Linked DNA regions of Homo sapiens. The protein of the gene in region 4 purifies or fractionates together with the protein of the main gene of each other region. This does not show direct contact. Each region holds a gene or a part of one and is shown on either strand. Other genes may lie near its edges.

What was found. The genes of interacting proteins can lie anywhere in the genome.
Region 1: the proteins of NAMPT (region 4) and NDRG1 fractionate together in Homo sapiens (co-fractionation; one large-scale study listed by BioGRID). This does not show direct contact.
Region 2: the proteins of NAMPT (region 4) and TPD52L2 fractionate together in Homo sapiens (co-fractionation; one large-scale study listed by BioGRID). This does not show direct contact.
Region 3: the proteins of NAMPT (region 4) and NCAPD3 purify together in Homo sapiens (co-immunoprecipitation; one large-scale study listed by IntAct). This does not show direct contact.

The regions. Positions count from the first base shown.
Region 1 is NC_000008.11:133,287,253-133,290,752, reverse strand, and holds part of NDRG1 (protein NDRG1), read left to right. Parts: intron 1-3,500. UniProt on the Homo sapiens protein: Stress-responsive protein involved in hormone responses, cell growth, and differentiation. Acts as a tumor suppressor in many cell types. Necessary but not sufficient for p53/TP53-mediated caspase activation and apoptosis.
Region 2 is NC_000020.11:63,875,270-63,878,769, reverse strand, and holds part of TPD52L2 (tumor protein D54), read right to left. Parts: intron 2,955-3,500; coding exon 2,895-2,954; intron 1-2,894.
Region 3 is NC_000011.10:134,157,968-134,161,467, reverse strand, and holds part of NCAPD3 (condensin-2 complex subunit D3), read left to right. Parts: intron 1-1,393; coding exon 1,394-1,576; intron 1,577-2,972; coding exon 2,973-3,139; intron 3,140-3,400; coding exon 3,401-3,500.
Region 4 is NC_000007.14:106,247,798-106,250,890, forward strand, and holds the end of NAMPT (nicotinamide phosphoribosyltransferase precursor), read right to left. Parts: 3' UTR 501-3,093; downstream 1-500.

The DNA.
Region 1 (3,500 bases), on a different chromosome or scaffold from region 4:
TTCAAGATGCTGGTTTTGCCAAAAGCTCAAGCCTGCTCATGATGGCTCAGTGGTGACTGCAGGGTGGAGGAGAGGCATGTGACTGTCCCAGCTGACCTCCACACGCTGAAAGCCTCATGGTCACGTGCAGCCCACCTTACAACGTTGTATCTGGGCCACGGGTGGTGGTGAGGACTGTGGATATATTTAGGGCAATGTGAGATCATTGTCAACATTCCCTTTAAGGTTGCTTTAACCTTAAAGCAGCCAGCTTGATGCTTGCTGACTTGGGGCACACATCTTAACCTCTTGATGCCTCAGTTTCCCCGTCTGTTAAATGGTGACATGCTGGCACCTCCCTCCTAGGGTTTCTGTGAGGCTTAAAGGAAGTACCGGGTTTAGAGTCCAGTTAGTGCCACAGATACTGTTCCTGGTGCTGTTTTTGTGGTGTGTCTGTGTAGGGTTACATTGTTGCCTTCCTGTGGCTGCTCTTCCTGGTGGGCGGAACCTGGAACTTCTAGAACAGATCATGGATGTTTCTCTGCTGGATACCCCTTCAGCCTCACCCTGTGGGAGTTGTGGCGGGGCCCAGGAGAGTTTGCTCAAGAGGGTGTGCAGGTGGGTGGCAGAGCTGGAGCAAGGCACTAGTCTTAACAGACAGGAGTCTGAGGCTGGCAGAAGTGGGGGCCTTGGTCCAAGGTGCGGGGCTAATCTGGCCAGAGCTGAGCCTGGCAGGGCCTTGGTAAGACCCTGTGGCCCTTTTGTCTTGGTGAAGCACCTTCCTGCCTGGGTTTCCATTTGCCTGTAAGTTTGTTGTGGACAGCGTGATCTCCATAGACGTACACTGTGCCTACTTTACAGATGGAGAAACCAAGGCCCAGAGAGGAAGTGACTTGCTCAGAGTCATGGAATAGGAAAGTGGCAGGGTCCCCATGCCCTGATTCCTAGGCCAGCGTTCCTGCTGCCCCACTGAGGTTTTTGGGAATCACAGGCTCTGTGTGTCCCCCTCAGTCCCCCAGGGGCTGTTGAACAGTTCTCAAGTGGTGTCGGATTACTGAAGATGCCTCTGCCCACTGCCCTCCCAGGTCCCAGGGTCACGGGTCACGTTCTTTTCTTCCTCGGGCAGATCCTGGCCTTGGCTTTGCCTGGCACCTGTGATCCAGCTCTCCTCTGACTCTCCTGGGTCTGCTGGACTGGAAGGGTATTTGTGTAGCCCCTCTTGGGCCCTCATTACTCATTGACAGACAGTGCTGGTGGAGAGAAGGGCCCCAGTGGTGACGCACTGGGCCTGATAATCAGAAACCTTGGTGGCATTTGCTGAGCATTTTCCATGTGTCCCTCTCCTCGCTGGGACTCTAGGACTGAAACCCAGGCCACATCCTCACAGATGTCCTGGCATCTCCAAGGCAACCCTGAAAGGAAAGTATGTTGATGAATTAAGCAACTGTTTGCTTAATTCTCCATGCCATTCTTGAATTTAAGCCCCACTGCTGATCATTGGGAGCAGGAGTTAGCATGCCCATTGACAGACAAGCAAACTGAGGCAAAGAGGTTAGATAGCCAGGCATGGTGGCATATGCCTGTAATCTCAGCTACTCAGGAGGCCGGAGTAGGAGGATCACTTGAACCCAGGAGTTTGAGACCAGTCTGGGCAACATAGCAAGACCCTGTCTCTCTAAAAAACAAGATGAATAATACATTTTTAAAAAGAGATTCGATAAATTATGCAGGATCACAGAGCTAATAAATGGTGACACCATGGCCTGCAAGCCTTCCCCCAGCTCCTGGCTACCTTTCGCTTCTCTGGCATTGGTCTTCTCGGAATTCCTCCCAGGCAGGTGGATGGGAAAAGAAGTGAAGATACAGGCTGGCAGCTGGTGCTGTGACCTGGAGCCCTGTTTTTGGTGCTAAGCTGGGTTTTAGCTGAAGGAGACCTGCTGGAGGGGTTTCTTCTGTGCTTCTTGGGGAGCAAAGATGGCCTTGGAGATGGAGACACGGTTTGTCAGTCCCAAGCCACTCCAAAGGTGGGGCTGGTGGGCTAGGAGTCAGCCCTGGTTCCCCCGCCATGCTGTGTGTGGCCCTGCCTTGCCACCCCACCTGCTGGAGGACCTCTTTGATGCTTTCTAGTGGGTCCCAACATTCTGTGATTAGGACTTTGCATGAGGCAGAGGGAGGGCAGGAGCTGGAGTCCAGCAAGGACCTCAAGCCCAGGGACAGGCTCCACCTGCCACACTTGCTAAGCCGTGAGGGCCTCAGGTGCCCGGGAGGAGGGAGCAGGAGTGGAAGCACCAGCTCGAGCCGCCAAACCAGGTCACGTATCACCTGCCATTTCCTGCTGGCAGAAGGAGATCACAGACACCAGAAGACAGCAGCTTCTGCCAGAACTGGGTCCTTCCATGATTCTCAGGTGGTGACTTTGAATCCCAGAAAAAGTGTTTTGGGGAGAGTGGAGTGAAGGAAGAGTGTGAACATTGGATCTGACTCCACTCCAGCCCCTGTGCTGCAGCCAGCAGGGTGAGCTCAGGACAGCTGGCAGCCGCTTGGGCCCAGCCCCCTCCTCCGTGAATGAAGGTGGTGGGGAGTGCACGTGTGCGTGTGAGTGCGTGTGAGTATAAATGACTGTGGATGTGAGAGTCCATGAAAGTGAGAATGTATCAGTGTGTAAGAAAGTGTGAGTATGTGAGAATGAGTGTGTTTGTGAGAATGTATGTATGTGTGAGTATAAGTGTGTGAATGTGAGAATGTCTGAGTGTGAGAATGAAAGTTTGCAAGTGTGTCAGTGTGAGGGAATGTGTGAGTGCATTTGAGAGTGTGTGTGTGTGTGTGTGCGTGTGTGCACGCATGCACTAGATTAAATAAGAATGCATCCAACTGACATTTTCTGGATACTGTTACCTACTAGGAATTACTAAAATCAGCTATTCCAGAGGAGGGTGGATGTCGCACCAGGGGACATTTGGCAACGTTTGCAGATTCTTTTGCTGGTCGCAGCGTGGGGTGTATGCTGTGGGCATGTGGTGGGCAGAGGCCAGGGATGCTGCTGAGCCTCCTCCCGTGCTCAGGGCAGCCCCTAAGGCAGAGGCTGCTTGTGGGGCCCAAATGTCAGCAGTGCTGAGCTGAGGATCTCTGTCCAGGAGGCACAGACGCTGTCCTGGATGCTGTCCAGACAGCATCTGCTCTGCCCTCCAGGGGGACAGACAGACAGTGGACACAGCCCAGATGCAGCCTGATGAGTGAGCCCAAGGGAGTGCCTGTCCCCTCGGGACTGTGAGCTCCGTGGGGGCAGGAACTGGGTCTGTTTGCTCATGATCCCCAGATGAGTCCCATAGCCAGTCTCATCACCATAGCTGGTGTTATTTTTGTTCTGAGCTCTGTGTTGGGCACATAGAACCTAGTGGGTAGAAACCTCTGAATAAATCCTGAGTTTTCCATCCTGCTTCCGTGAACTCAGATGTTCTTTGAGGGCCAGCCTGGTGGCGTGGGGGCTGGGAGTGGGCAGATTGTAGGGAGCCAAGTCCTGG
Region 2 (3,500 bases), on a different chromosome or scaffold from region 4:
CAGACAGCGGTTTCGTCCCACTGCCAGTGAGCTGTCCCCTGGGCAGCACAGGGCATCTGGGGGACATCCTTGCACTCCCCCTCTCCTGAGTCTGTCTCTGGGGGCTGCCCCCACTCCCACTCAGGATGGACAAGTGATCCAGGCCTGGCCAGAGCACACCACCTCCAAGGCCGCAGCCATTAGTCCAGGGAGACCCATATGGGGCCACACTGTTGGGCTGCAGCAGTGGGGGCAGGGACTTCTCTGCCTGGTGAGTGCTCCCACCTCCCTGTTTGGTTGATGCTACCTTGAGTCGTGCTTTCTGTCACCTGCAACCAAAACAACTCCAAGTGAACCAGCTCATAACTGCAGGATCTATATGATGCCCCTCTCAGCACTGAGGTTTTTAGTTACCTCTGCCTATAAATAGAATGCAACAGGCAATTGTTTCACCACTCGCAGAACACAGCTGCTCTCGCATTCAGACATGACCCACTGAGAATGTGGCCGCATTGCAGCCTCATGGGGCCAGGCACCAGTGCTATCCTCCACCCACCGGCCACGTTCTCCTTCCCGTCCATCCTCCAGGGCGCCAATAGCTGAAAGGATCTACAAACACGTGGGTCAGGATGCAGGGAGCTTTTACTGCCTTCCCCTGCAGAGCTCTGGGCAGTGGAGGTACATCTACAGCCCATCTCCTGAAGCTGACTAGGAGAGGCACCAGCCAGGAAGAGCACGCGCCATGGCCACATCCTCAGGCCCCACCTCCCAAGCCGCATCCCTTCCGTCTGGGCCGTCCCGGCAGAAACCACCGCCCTCGGCCTCGGCCGTCCCGGCAGAAACCATCGCCCTCGGCCTGGGCCTTCCCACCAGAAACCATCGCCCTCGGCCTGGGCCGTCCCGGCAGAAACCATCGCCCTCGGCCTGGGCCTTCCCGGCAGAAACGCTTCCACTCTGGAACCGTCAGTTGACAGCTCTCGCCACAGAACTCAGGGGAATGGCCTCGGCCAGGTGATGCACTGGCCATATGCTTCCATGCTGAGCCACAGGTTTCTCCAGAGGGGTCGGGACGCTGAGTGTTGTAATAAGCTCTCTAAAACACTATTTATTTGAAATAGGATCCCGGCAGCTTTATGTCAGTTGGTTTTACAAAACAGCACTGAAGTCTCCTAAGACTATTTTCAGACTGAGTCTGCACTGTGCGTCCGCCTGATGCCCAAACTGCAAGGATGACCGTCACTGTCCCAACCTAGGAACCATCTGCTGCCCAGCAAAGTCACTGTTCAACAGCCCGAGACACAGCCCACCAGGGTCCCTAGAACACCCTGCTCAAGCCGGGTGCAGTGGGTCACGCCTGTCATCCCAGCACTTTGGGAGGCCGAGATGGGCGGATCACGAGGTCAGGAGATCGAAACCATCCTGGCTAACACCATGAAACCCTGTCTCTACTAAAAATACAAAAAATTAGCCGGGCGTGGTGGTGGGCGCCTGTAGTCCCAGCACTTTGGGAGGCTGAGGCAGGCGGATCACGAGGTCAGGAGATTGAGACCATCCTGGCTGACATGGTGAAATCCTGTCTCTACTAAAAATAGAAAAAATTAGCCGGGCGTGGTGGCGGGCGCCTGTAGTCCCAGCTACTGGGGAGGCTGAGGCAGGAGAATGGTGTGAACCCGGGAGGCGGAGCTTGCAGTGAGCCCAGATGGCGCCACTGCACTCCAGCCTGGGAGACAGAACGAGACGTTGTCTCAAAAAAAAAACCAAACAAACAAAAAAAACCCAGGGCAACATGCCATGAACCACCCGGGTCCCCAGAGCACCCAGATGTACAGCTGGCTGCTGTAGCCATGCCCACAAACCGCCCGGGTCCCTGGAATACCCAGGGCAACATGCCGTGAACCGCCCGGGTCCCCAGAGCACCCAGATGTACAGCTGGCTGCTGTAGCCATGCCCACGAACCACCCGGGTCCCTGGAATACCCGGGGCAACATGCCGAGAACCGCCCGGGGTTCCTGACACCAGCCTCCCACCGTGACACCAGACGCAAAGGCTCCATGTGCACGCAGTGCCAGCCTGGTCCCCCAGGACCTTCAAGACAAGCTCGGCAGCAACTGCTTCCTTTCAGACCAACATGGGAGGACTTTCTGCCCATGTTCTGTGGCAACGATTACAGCGCTTCCTTCTAAATAACAGATGAAAAAATCCCACAGAGACTATTTAAAAATATTCCCCTCCTCAGTTTAAAGACGTTATAATCAGATCAGAGCACAAGTAAATGAAGTGCTATTATCTAGTTTAAGGATCTCCAAATATTAGGAGTCACTCTGAACAACACCACTGACACACACATACAAAACTATCCACACTTGATCCACACTGGCTGATGCTCTGACAATGCAGTGCCTCCCAGATCGTGAGGATTTCAAATTTCCACCAGCATATCCTACACCATGCCCTCCACTCAAGAACTACCCCTAAAGGAGGAAAGGAATTCTGAGAACCCAACAGCTGGAGCTAAGCAGGGAAAAGGGTTAGGGTTAGAACAAACAAAAATTCGCCACCAACAAACCCAGGCCAAGTGGTGTTGTCCAGCTTGTGCACTGCCGGAAGCCAAGGAGCTCTATTAGTTAGAGATACAGCCAGGACCAGTGCAGGCCTCTTACATAAGGGACGCATATCAGGCAGAGGGGAGTTTTAAGTGTGGTCAGGTGGCTGAGTGAGTTTCTCTCAGCTACTATTCCCTGTTCCACAAAAGTTTAAAGGATAGTTTACCTGAGAGAAGAAAAGTTATAGGAAGAAAAAATAGCCAGCAAATACCAAAACAAGCTTTGTGCCAAGTGTGCACAGCCCCCTTCCCCGACTGAGTGTCAGGAGGCGGAGAGGAGGAAGGAGGAGGTGCTGATGATACAGGCACTCACAGGTCTGACTGGGTCACTTTCTCATTCCACTCTCCAAGTTTCTCAGAAGTTTTCACATAGCTAAAAACAGAAAGTCTACAGTGAATTATTTAGAAGAACAATTTTAACTCAGGCATCAAACTGCAGGTGAAGTTCCAGGGAAGACAGAGAGGGACCAGCTGGCAGGAACATCAACTCCACAGACGGCCCAAAAATGGGGTCCACTGCCTCAACCAGGCCCTGTGCAGGCCCCAGGCCGCCAGGTGAGCTGTGGGTATAGCGGAACTGATGTTCCCTTTTCTGTCACCTGGCAGTAGCCCCTGGTCTCTCGCTAGGAGATTCTTGGGCAACAGCACTGCTGTGGGGGACTGGAAGGGCACAGCCCACAGCTCCAAAACACCCTTGGGATTCAAAACTTACGATGTCCTAGGACAAAAACATGGGCCTCTCATATGTGAGATTTATGAAATGTGACCTGTTCTGTCTTTGTATAGGAACATGTCTTCTGGGAAACATTCCACAGCCACCCCAACCTTGAAGGGTATGTTTCAGAGAAGCCACGTGGACAGGGCCAAGTGAGAAAGCAGCACTCCCCAAATTCAGAGCTGAGCGACATCTGGGACAGGT
Region 3 (3,500 bases), on a different chromosome or scaffold from region 4:
ATGCTGCTTGGGGGTAAGGTGAAAGTGAGTCTTCGGGTTTGATTTCAGGGTGCTTACCTTTTGCACTGACTCAGATTCACAAGGTCAGGAAATAACTGCCCTGCAGGAGCTGCCTTCGGAGCTGCCATCACCAGGCTGAATTCTTTGTCAAGCAAGGGGACCATGAGGAGCTCAGTCGGAGCAAACCCAGGATGTGTTGACTTGCAGGGCGGACCTAAGTGGGGCCTCAGACCTTTCTTGCAAAATCTTTTACTAAGAAATAAATGCAACATAGTTTTTCTTTAATTCAGCAGTTATAGCTCTGTTCACATTATGTGTTTTTCTTCCTCAAAAAAATGCTACAATTTTTTTTCCAATAAAGGCCTCAACAAAAATTACATTGAATATAAATTTTCAAATAGCTTTTTATACTAGGAAGCCAAGGTAGGAAAGATAGTCTCATTGTATGATAAAAATAAAAACTTCCAAATATTCTTGTATTTATTGCCTGACTTTAGACCCTAGAAAGGAAAAAAAAAAACAAAAACAGAGCTTTGATCCTACATAGACTACTTAAACACTTAAGAAAAATAAGCCTTCCTCCTGCTTGTGAGCACACACACAGGATGGCCACACGTTGCTTGTTGTCAGTAGCTTGAGGGAGTCTCTTCATTGGCCTGTGGAACCCACTCCTAGTGGCAGCTGGAAAAGTGCATGGATTCCTTCTCTTTGTTGAGACTTCCCTCCCAGTTGGAACTGCAGTGTCTTTTTCTCCCTATTACTGTTAGGTGGAATGATTCTTTCTCTTAGCAAAGTGGTCTTGCCCCTGGCACCCCTCTTTAAGACCTAAGAATGTTTTTCCCTAGGTATGAGAAAAGGTTTTCTGTAAAATCTTCAGAAGAAGACACAAAGATGGGATTTGAGCCTTAGTTGGAATCCCCTGAGAGCCAATGGGGAGGCTAATGTAGACAGATGAGCAGCTTTTAGATCCATGCATCCTGGGACTTGCTCCAGAGGCTGTGTCTGAGCATGTCTTTCTCCCATTGGGAACCTGGGAGAGATTGCCCATTAACTGCCACATAGCCAGGATGCTTCCTAAGAGAGAGAACTGTTAGTTACTCACATATTTTTCTGCTTGTGTGGCCAGTGGTGTTTGCTCCAAATATACCATTGTACCTGTTAGTTACTGGAATGGAAATCATCTGCTTTCAGTAATGTCAGTCCTATTGTTCCTATGATTTATCAAGCAACATGACTTGGGGGGCTTTTTTCTTTCTTAACTTTTATTTTGCGTTCAGGGGTACACGTGCAGGATGTGCAGGTTTGTTACACAGGCGAAGGTGTGTCGTGGGGGTTTAGGGCTTTACGTTTTTATTCAAGAAAACATGAAAGGATGCTCCTGGCTCTGTTTCAGGAGGTGATGCAGGATTACCGAGATGAGCTCAAGGACTTCTTTGCAGTTGACAAACAGCTGGCATCAGAGCTTGAGTATGACATGAAGAAGTACCAGGAACAGCTGGTCCAGGAGCAGGAGCTAGCAAAACATGCAGATGTGGCCGGGACGGCTGGAGGTGCTGAGGTGGCACCTGTGGCACAGGTAGGTGTGGGGCCCACTGCACTGTGACCAGACAGTCCAGTCTGCTGTCTGCTACCAGTCTGTCGTTTGTCTGGCACCTCTCAAGATCTCCGTCATCAGAGGTTAGTCAGCCCGAAGGCCTCGAGAGTGCTGCTTGTTGGCCACTCCCTCGTGCCTTTCTGTCTGTGATGGATTTACTGTGCTCCAGACCTCCCTTCCATGAGGACGTGGTGCAGGAAGCGAGCTGGCAGCAGCAGTAGCTGGTGACTATAGATCCTAGGTCTGCCAGGGTGTGTCAGTGTGTCCGCATCTTCCCCCAGCACTCCCTCTTTAGAGCAGACCGGCACACGGCCATTTCTAGGAGTAGCTGTTGCTCACCGTCCTGAGGAATGCAGGCAGATCTCTTGTAGGAAAGACCAATGAGCACAAAGTAGCATACTCCTTTTTCTCTTCTGTCATGCCACAGCATCTACAAGTGGCAGCTTTCTCATAGTATTCTGTTTCTGAAAAGGAAATTCAACTTACCCAGGGTTGATATGGCTTCAAAGTACATTACTTATGGACTTGCTCATAGTACGTGAAGATTCTATTCCAATAAAGTGTTAAAATGGAGAAAGGGAATGGCTTGTACACTGTTGGTAGGGATGGAAAGTAGAACAGCCACTATGGAGAACAGTATAGAGGTTCCAAAAAACTAAAAGTAGAGGTACCATATGAGGCAGCAGCCTCGCTGCTGACTGTATAGTCAAAAGAAAGGAAATCAGGATGTCGAAGACATACCTGCACTCCCATGTTTATTGCAGCACTGTTCACAATAGCAAAATTTGGAAACAAATGTCCATCAGTGGATGAATGGTAAAGAAAATGGGGTGCATATACAGTGGAGTACTTTTCATCTATAAAAAGTGAAATCTTGTCATCTGTTGCAACATGGATGAACTTGGAAGACATTATATTAAGTGAAATAAGCCAAACACAGAAAGACAAAGATTGTATGTTCTCATTCATATATGTGAGCCAAAAAGGTTGATCTCACGGAGTTAGAGAGTGGATTTTTGGTGATTACCAGAGGCTGGGAAGGGGTGGGAGAAGGGGGATGAAGAGAAGTTGGTTAATGGGTACCAAAATACAGTTAGATAGAAGAAATAAGTTCTAGTATTCAGTACAGTGGAGATATTACAGTTTAACAATTTACTGTATATTTCAAAGTACATAGAAGAATTGGAATGTTCCCAACACAAAGAAAAGATACTCACGTTTGAGGTGATGGAGATGCCAATTACCCTGATTTGATCATTACGTTGTCCACATGTATCAAAATCTCATATGGACCCCCAACCATGTACAACTATCATATATCCGTTTTTGAAAACTTAAAAAGTATTAGAATGTACATACTCTTTATCTTCTCTACCAGGTTGCCCTGTGTTTAGAAACAGTGCCAGTTCCTGCTGGCCAAGAAAACCCTGCCATGTCACCTGCCGTGAGCCAGCCCTGCACACCCAGGGCAAGTGCTGGCCATGTAGCAGTATCATCTCCTACACCTGAAACAGGGCCATTGCAGAGGTTGCTGCCCAAAGCCAGGTAAAGAGCCCCTGGAGGCCACATCAGGGCTGGTTCTCTGTGGCGATGTTCTCAGAGGCGTCCCTGCCATTCCCAAGCGTGGGCAGGAAAGTCATTGTCATTGTCTGGCCTGCCACCCCGCTCCACACTGTGCCCTGGGAGGTTTGAATGAGGGTGGTGAGGGATGCGCCGGTGAGGAGGCACGCGGGGACACAGTGCAGCACTGTCACCTCTGCAGTGGTCTGCAGTGAGAAAGTCAGCGGCTGTGGCTGTTCTCCACAGGCCCATGTCCCTGAGCACCATTGCAATCCTGAATTCTGTCAAGAAAGCCGTGGAGTCAAAGAGCAGGCATCGGAGTCGGAGCTTAGGAGTGCTGCCTTTC
Region 4 (3,093 bases):
AAAACAGCCAAAGGCAGTAACTAAATAAATGGGTGTGGCTATGTTCCAATACAGTTATTTACAAAAACAGATGGTGGGCTGGATTTGGCTCATGGCGTGGGGTTTGCCAACTCCTGCTCTATACTATCCCTAGAAGAGTATCCTTTACTGTGTGCTTCCAAAGATGTATACCTTCCAAGGTATACATCAGTCATACCTTGAGGCCCTTCTGTCCACAAACCTGTATCATCAACTGCCTACTTAATACCTACATTTAGATATGTCAAAGGCGTCTCAAGCCTTAACACGGGAATCGTGCTCTTTCCTCTCAAATCTGATGTCCCTCCAGTGTTCTTCCTTAGTAAAAGGCACTGTCATCTATACAGTTGCACAAAGCAGAAAAGGAGTCAACTCTGACACTTGCCCTTCTCTCATCTTCTAATTCTTTGAACTGGAGGAATACTTAAAACAGGTAGGCCTGAAAATGGCATTACTTGAAGCACACAAATTTAACACTTCACTAATAGAGCTAAACTTTATTTCCATGTTTATTACATGTTTATAACTTGATGTTGAGTACATATTAGAATAGACTTAACATACAACTTGGGAGAAAAGCTGACATTCTCCACTGAATGGGTTAAAAAGGAATGTAAAACTACAAAATACTTAAGTGTGAGTTCTAAATTATGGCAAACAGAACAATAAATACCTTGCCATTTTTCTTTCTAATTTTCCAAGATAGATTTCATTATAAAAATTGTTTGATAACAATTTAAGAAGGGAAAACAAGGGATACTCATAAAAAACATTTTACTTTAATTATAGGGTACAAATAAGAGTCTTAACACAGAAATCCTACCTCCTATTTAAGATATAAATACTTGATGATATAATCAATCAAGAGGGATTAATTAATGTCAGTTGAAAATCTAATGACTTAAATCCATAAATGCCATTTGCTTTTGTCTGGAAGATTTAGACTGATTTAAGGGTGACACACAGCAGAGTTCTAGTGGACATTCGTGTTAACCGTTTGGTGCTCAGAATGGAGATGGCCAAATACCAAGTGCTTAGTGACAGAAAGTCAGAATTAATCAGTTCCAAGTGACTAAGAGCCAATAGAATTAATCTCCATCTCCTGATTTATGGTTGTGAACAAAGAGATAGCTTTTTTCACTGCAAATTTCTAAATTAAACTCTATTCTGAAGCTGCTGAAATTCACAGAACACAGAGAATACTGTCTGTACTATAATTTCAATGTTTAAACACAAAATTATGGGTGATTATCAAAACTATTATTGGTAATAGTTTCTTTTGATTCTTTACACGCCCCTTAGCACATTTTGTGAAGAAATGTGTGTTTTTCTTAATACTACTCATCTTTACTCAAATACATTAAAAAATCATTTTAAAATTATTTTATATCATGGATTACAGAAGACTTACTAAAAGTGAATAATGCTTATTGTTCTCACTACATGTTTAAAGAACCATCTGAAAAACATATTCTTTCTAATACCACTTACAAAAAACATTTAATGAAGATAACACTTCTAATTAGGTTATTCTAGTGATCATTTTCTCATGTAACTATTTAAAACAGATGATTTATGGCTTTTCAATTTTTAAAATTTCACATTTAATGTCATGTTAAAAACTTTTCTAAATCAGTCTTCCAGTATCGGATTCTTAAGTGAGAAAAAAGAAGACAAAAGAGGAAAATTCCGTATCAATTATTTAGCCTCCTCCCTTCCCTAGAAACCAACATTTCCTTTTAAATGCAAGGCACACTCCTTTTCTTAGAACAGAGATCAGGAAACTTTTTGTGTAATTTTGTGTAAAGGGCAGGTTAATAAACATTTTGGGCTTTGCGATTCTCATTTGGCTTCTATTGCAGCTGTTTACCTTAGGCTGGAGTAGTGGGAAAGCAGCCATAGACAATCTGCATTTATAAAAAGAAGTCCAAATTTGGCCTTTGGGCTATAGTTGGCCAACCGCTGCCTCAGAAGAACAGATCTACATACATAAAAGAATCATTCGAAAGAAACTGGTCTCTAGTCAGATGTGATGTATGATTCAGAATCTAGTAGCTAATCACTCTAGAACATTTTGATGTCAAGCACTTTGAATTTAGCCAACTTAAGATTCTTCTATTGAAACACATGTCATGCTTTTCATTGGAGATAATTTATCTTCATTTAAGAATGTGCTTCAGTATTACTTATTGAGGGCATTCAGTTTAAAATTAATAAATGATGTCCATACAATTTAATATCCAATTTAATTTTTTAAAAACTTAATAAAAAATATAACAGAATTGAAACATTTAAGTACACTCACTACCCACTCCAGTAATTCATTTAAGTCATACCAACTATAGAATATGAAAAATAAATTCAGAAGTGTAATTACTTTAAAATACACTACTTCCACTTTTGTAAGTATTTTACATTTATGTATATATTCTATAGTGGAAGCAGAAATTCTCTCTAAAAACATTATCTCCTTAAAATCTTGAGGTGCATATTAGAGCCACAGGCAATCTCTGACATATAAAATTGCAGTACAGGCCTTTCAAATTTGGCATTTCACTGGTACAATACAACAACCAAGATATATAATAACTGTACAGTGCCTAGACATTCCAGTAAGAACCATTATTTTCTTTAATGTAGAATGATTAATACATATTCTACAAGGGGCAGTAAGGTTAGTAATTCTATAGGGTATGTCCCGACATAATTTTCAAATTGTACAATAACACAAACAACTTTGTTAAGGCCATGTTTTATTTGCTGATTAATGGACAAAAGGCAATGTAATTTATTTTCAAGTATTTTCTTGAAAGTCTGTGCTCATAAAAATCATGAAAAGTTGGAAAGACTGTTAAATCACTGAAACTTCAAATATATCTTACACAATCTTGTTTGTACAAAAATACAAGTTAAATATAAACATAAAGCAATCATGGTAATTTTATGCAAATCTGTTTTATGTGATCATCAGTTATATATAAAAGTTTCTCAGTTCTGTTATTTGTGAAAAGATCAATACCAGATTGAATGACTACCTATTGGCAAAGGGCCCTAAAAAGCTTACTTTAGCACTCA